Linked DNA regions of Homo sapiens: region 2 is linked to region 1. Evidence: fine-mapped expression QTL. A gene starts in region 1. The other region holds a variant in brackets. All regions are shown on one strand. Distances are from middle to middle. Region 1 holds the start of ZNF461 (zinc finger protein 461). Region 2 overlaps ZNF850 (zinc finger protein 850).

The links. PIP is the estimated chance that this variant, and not a neighbour inherited with it, causes the effect.
Region 2: its variant is fine-mapped to the expression of ZNF461 in whole blood (TOPMed, PIP above 0.99).

The regions. Positions count from the first base shown.
Region 1 is chr19:36,665,419-36,668,331 of GRCh38, forward strand. It overlaps ZNF461 (zinc finger protein 461), which reads right to left and starts at 1,419. Exons shown (of 6, transcript NM_153257.5): 1 at 1,272-1,419. It also overlaps a transcript of ZNF567 not described here. RefSeq lists an enhancer at 1,596-1,725.
Region 2 is chr19:36,759,371-36,762,283 of GRCh38, forward strand. It overlaps ZNF850 (zinc finger protein 850), which reads right to left. Exons shown (of 5, transcript NM_001193552.2): 4 at 2,273-2,368. Among named protein-coding and RNA genes, the nearest start is that of ZNF850, 12 kb to the right of the region's middle. The variant T/A (reference allele first, on the strand shown) is at 1,621.

The sequences.
Region 1 (2,913 bases):
AAGTTGCAGAGGCCGGGCGCGGTGGCTCACGCCTGTAATCCCAACACTTTGGGAGGCAGATGCGGGCGGATCACGAGGTCAGGGGCTCAAGACCAGCCTGGCCAACATGGTGAAATCCCGTCTCTACTAAAAATACAAAAATTAGCTGGGTGTGGTGGCGGATGCCTGTAATCCCAGCTACTCGTGAGGCTGAGGCAGGAGAACTGCTTAAAACCCGAAGGCGGAGGTTGCAGTGAGCCGAGATCGCGCCACCGCACTCCAGCCACGGTGAAAGAGAGAAACTTCGTCTCAAAAAAAAAAAAAAAAAAAGGAAGTTGCAGAACAATGTGTATTGTGGCCAAATCTCAGAAAAAAAAAATCAAACACATAGGTACATAAGCATACTACATATGTGGTGTTTTTCTGAGGCTGTAATGATAAATGCGGGGTAGCAATGTGATTTTCGCTTGTGTTGTGTGTGTAAATCTACAGCTAACTCCTCAAGTAGTCAGGAAAGGATGAGAGATGGATGAATGACAGATCTCTGGAGTGGGGCGTCCTGAGCCTTAGATGTGTGCACAGGAGCGGGGTGAGGTGAATGTGCGTGTGTCTGTGTGTGAGAGACCAGAGTTGACTGAGAGGAGTGGAAGCTCTCTGCCTGATCGTGTGAGCCTGAGGATAACGTGAATGTTTTTTTGTTTTTTTTTTTTTGAGACAGTTTCGTTTCACTCTTGTTGCCCAGGTTGGAGTGCAATGGCGCGATCTCGGCTCACAGCAACCTCCGCCTCCCGGGTTCAAGCGATTCTCCTGCCTCAGCCTCCCAAGGAGCTGGAATTACAGACATGCACCACCATACCCGGCTAATTTTGTATTTTTAGTAGAGGTGGGGTTTCTCCACGTTGGCCAGGCTGGTATCGAACTCCCGACATCAGGGCATCCACCCGCTTCGGGCTCCCAAAATGCTGGGATTACAGGGGTGAGCCACCGCTCCCGGCCTGTAAATGTGCTTTTTCTTTCACGTAAATAAATGAGATTTACACAAATAGCCATTCACAATCATGGTCACAGTCACCTACAAACCCCATTTACACAAATGATCAGGCACACAATCACACTGTCACTAAAGCACACCCACGCACCAGGTCGCTGTCCCAACAGTAACACACAGCCCAAAGAGAAACCCTACTTCCTCACGCATTCAAAACACACCCACCTAAGGGCTGATCCCGCACTCAGAGGCCTAAAACTATAGACATTCCCTTCCGCGGCACTGGTGAGCCAGGATTTCTTACCTTCAGCATTCTCAGGGAAGGCTCTGGTCCAAGCTCTGATTCGGATTCCAAGCGAAGCCACACGCCCAGCTCTTCCTTCTCCACCGGCCCGGGACATCCTTACCTGCCTCTACCCGGAGACCATTCCTGCGAGGCTCCTACCGGAAGTAGCTGTGGACAGCAGTGTCCTCTGGGAAATGCAGTCCGAGGGGAGAGCGCCTGGGGTGGAGCGGGTGTGTTCCGCCGGGCTCCGGGATGCACTTGCGCAGTTTCACCCGAGGCTGGAGTGACGCCAACCTGTTAATGTTCGTTTTCGGATTCTGGACTTCGGGTTCCGCTGAGGACGGATTTCGGAATAGGCACAGTGGCTGCCCCGAACCCCTCAAGGCGGCCTCCGCGGGCTGTGGCTGAAGATAATTTTCGGCGGGCGCGGACTAACCCGGCTTCCCTTTGTGGAGTTGTGGTGAGAAAGGTGTTTTGTTGTGCGCGTGTCCGAAGGTGACTCCGGAGGAGAAGGTGGATATGAACTGACGGTGAGGGTGTAGCGCGTGAGATTTGTATGTGAAACGATTTAAAAAAAAATTTTTTTTTTGGCCGGGCGCGGTGGCTCACGCCAAGGCGGGCGGATCACCGAGACCAGCCTGACCAACATGGAGAAACCCCGTCTCTACTAAAAATACAAAATTAGCCGGGCGTGATGGCGCATGCCTGTAATCCCAGCTACTCGGGAGGCTGAGGCAGGAGAATCGCTTGAACCCGGGAGGCAGAGGTTGCGGTGAGCCGAGGTCGCGCCATTGCACTCCAGCCTGGGCGACAGAGCAACTCCTTCTCAAACAAACAAACAAAACTGTATGTCATATATTTGACTCCATTTATTTATTTATTTAGAGACAGAGTCTTCTTGCCCTGTTGCCCGGGCAAGAAAAAACAAACAACAACAACAACAAAAAACTGTACGTCATATATTTCACTCAACTTTTTTTTTTTCTTTTTTTTTTTTTGAGACGGAGTCTCGCTGTCGCCCAGGCTGGAGTGCAGTGGCGCAATCTCGGCTCACTGCAAGCTCCGCCTCCCGGGTTCACGCCATTCTCCTGCCTCAGCCTCCCGAGTAGCTGGGACTACAGGCGCCCGCCACCTCGCCCGGCTAATTTTTTGTATTTTTAGTAGAGACGGGGTTTCATCGTGTTAGCCAGGATGGTCTCGATCTCCTGACCTCGTGATTCGCCCGCCTCGGCCTCCCAAAGTGCTGGATTACAGGCGTGAGCCACCGCGCCCGGCCTCTTTTTGAGACAGGGTCTTCATGCCCTGTTGCCCAGGCTGACTGCGGTGGCGCGATCCTAGCTCACTGCAGTCTCCACCTCCTCAGCTCCTCCCGCATCCACCTCCCAAAGTGCTGGGATAGCAGGCGTGAGCCACCGGGTCAGGCCAAAACGATTTATTTTATTTTTATTTTTTTGGTAAAGACAGGGTCTCGCTATGTTGCCCAGGCTGGTGGTCTCGAACTCCTGGGCTCAAGCGATCCTCCCGTCTCAGTGGCCAAAGTATTGGATGACAGGTGTGAGCCACCGCGCTGGGTGGTGAAACGGTTTTGAGGCTTTTTGAGAATGGCTGTTCTATATGCCCGCGTGGGGCTCATGCGGCGAGCGCCGCCACTCCCGCAGTG
Region 2 (2,913 bases), 94 kb after region 1:
AGGCAGAGGTGGGAGGATCACTTGAGTCCTGGAGGTCAAGGCTGCAGTGAGCTGTGATTGTGCCACCGTACTCCAGCATGGGCAACAGAGAGACCCTGTCACAAAAACAAAAAAAGAAGAAGCAACACTGAAAAGCTACCTATACATTTAATATTATTGAACTCATGATATCCAGGACTTGCTTTAGTTAAGGGAAGGTGCAGAGGTCAACAGGCATAGATCAAGTAAGATTGGAAACATGGAAACTCATTGATAACTACTGCAGCTAGGAAATGGATTTGGGGGATGTCCATTACACCATCCTTTCTACTTTTGTGTATGTTCAAAGACCTCCGTAATCAAGTTAATAATTAAAAAAAAATTTTTTTGTAATGTTCTATGGATAAAGGGAAATAGTCATCTATATCCTACAATTAAAACGCTTTTTAAAATGGATAGTTTGCATTACTTAAAAGCACATTTTGAAAAACAAAATGCCTTATCTTTTCTACTTCAAAAGAAAAATCCCTCAGTCTATGCTACTTACAGCCCAATTTTTGTCCATGTTAACATTGTCACCAACTTATTGAAAATGGATCACTCCTTTTCCTTGACACTTAAGTCTTCTATATTTAACTTATTGTCCTCTTTTATACACAATCATTTCAGTGTACCTTTTCCTCCTAAAAGCAGGCATATCCTATTCCTTCACATTTATATCTACAGTTCTTTCTTCTAAGCACCATATTAGAAATCTCCTGGTTGAGTCTACTTTTTAGAAAGTGATTTATACAATGATTTAGACCCTTTATTAGGCTGGGTGTGGTGGCTCACGCCGGTAATCCTAGCACTTTGGGAGGCCGAGGTGGGCAGATTGCCTCAGCTCAGGAGTTCAAGACCAGCCTAGGCTATGTGGCAAAACCCTGTCTCTACTAAAAATACAAAAAATTAGCCAGGTGTGGTGGCGCGTGCCTGTAATCTTAGCTACTCCGGAGGCTGTGGCACGAGAATTGCTTGAATTCAGGATGCAGGGGATGCAGTGAGCCGAGATCACTCCACTGCACTCCAGCCTGGGCAACACAAAGAGATATTGTCTCAAAATAAATAAATAAATAAACCCTTTATTAGACTGTAATTCTGATAGCTTATATCTTCCATAACTGTCACCCACCAAGAAAAGAAGGCTTTATGATTTTTTTTTTAAGTCAATAAATTTTGACTAAAAGTGAATGAGGTCAGACGTGGTGGCTCACACCTGTAATCCTGGCACTTTGGGAGACCGAGGCAGGTGGATCACCTGAGGTCAGGAGTTCAGGACCAGCCTGGCCAACATGGTGAAACCCTGTCTCTACTGAAAATACAAAAAGTAGCCAGTTGTGGTGGTACATGCCTGTAGTCCCAGCTACTCAAGAGGCTGAGGCAGGAGAATTACTTGAACCCGGGAAGTGGAGGTTGCAGTGAGCCAATATTGCACCACTGCACTCCAGCCTGGGTGACAGAGTAAGACTCTGTTTCAAAAAAATAAAGTGAATGAATATCCATTGATGCATGAAATGTCTGCATCAAAGGAAAACTAGACAAGACAACACACAAAAAAAGTTAAGGATCAGTATGAAAAATAAATATATTTTGAAAAAAAAA[T/A]TTTTTAAAGCAAGAACACAGGTTTAAATTTCAAAGGGAAAGAAGTAGCTTGAAGACAGAGGAAACAGGATGGCTCCCGAAGAAGGGAACTTTATTCTTTGAAATGGGAAGAAATTATGACAAGAGGGTAGCACAGACTGAAGAGGTGGAAGTAAAAGGGGATTCTTGGCCAGGCGCAGTGGCTCACACCTGTAATCCCAGCACTTTCAGAGGCCGAGGCAGGTGGATCACTTGAGGTCAGGAGTTCGAGGCCAGCCTAGCCCACATGGTAAAACCCCGTCTCTACTGAAAATACAAAAATTAGCTGGGCATGGTGGTGGATGCCTATAATGCCAGTTCCTTCAAAGGCTGAGGCAGGAGAGTCGCTTCAACCTGGGGACGGAGGTTGCAATGAGCCGAGATCATGCCACTGCACTCCAGCCTGGGCGACAGAGCGAGACTCCATCTCAAAATAAATAAATAAATAAATAATAAAATTTTAAAAAGTGTGTGTGGGGGTGTATCGTGACTTCTCTTCATGTGTCTTAGGCCACCACCCTTACATGGGACCTTGAAGAAGAGACTCCTCAACCAATACCTGTACGGTGCTGCCTCCCTGACAGGCTGGCTTCTAAACAGCAGTGTCTTCCCCATGTGCTCAGTCCTTACTCACCTCGGCACCATCCTCCCAGCACGTCCCTTGAAACCATCCAGGGCTCTTTCCCTTGCTCCAGTAAGGAAATCACATCAGGCTTTGGGATAGAGAGACCTGTTTATAAGAAAAGAAGTAAGATAGCCAGGCATGGTGGCTCACTCCTATAATCCCAGCACTTTGGGAGACCAAAACAGGTGGATTGCTTGAGGTCAGGAGTTCAAGACCAGCCTGACCAACATGGTGAAACCCTGTCTCTACTAAAAATACAAAAATTGGCTGGGCATGGTGGTGGGTGCCTGTAATCCCAGCTACTCAGAAGGCTGAGGCAGGAGAGTCGCTTGAACCCGAGAGACGGAGGTTGGAGTGAACCGAGATCATGACATTGCACTCCAGCCTGGGCGACAGAGTGAGACTTTGTCTCAAAAAAAAAAAAAAAAAGAAAAGAAGTGAGACATACTCCTGCTGTTCCTGAATTCAAAGTTAGTCCCTTAGTCCTCATGAAGGACTAGAGGAAGGTGTAGAGTTCTGAAGCATGGAGAAGATGGAGTGACCCCAAAGAGCTGCCCATCTATTAATCTACAAAACACAAAACAATTCCCTAGGCAACAGGTGAAAAGTCACCCAGACAATTGAAAGCTACACCCAAAATTCATGAGTTA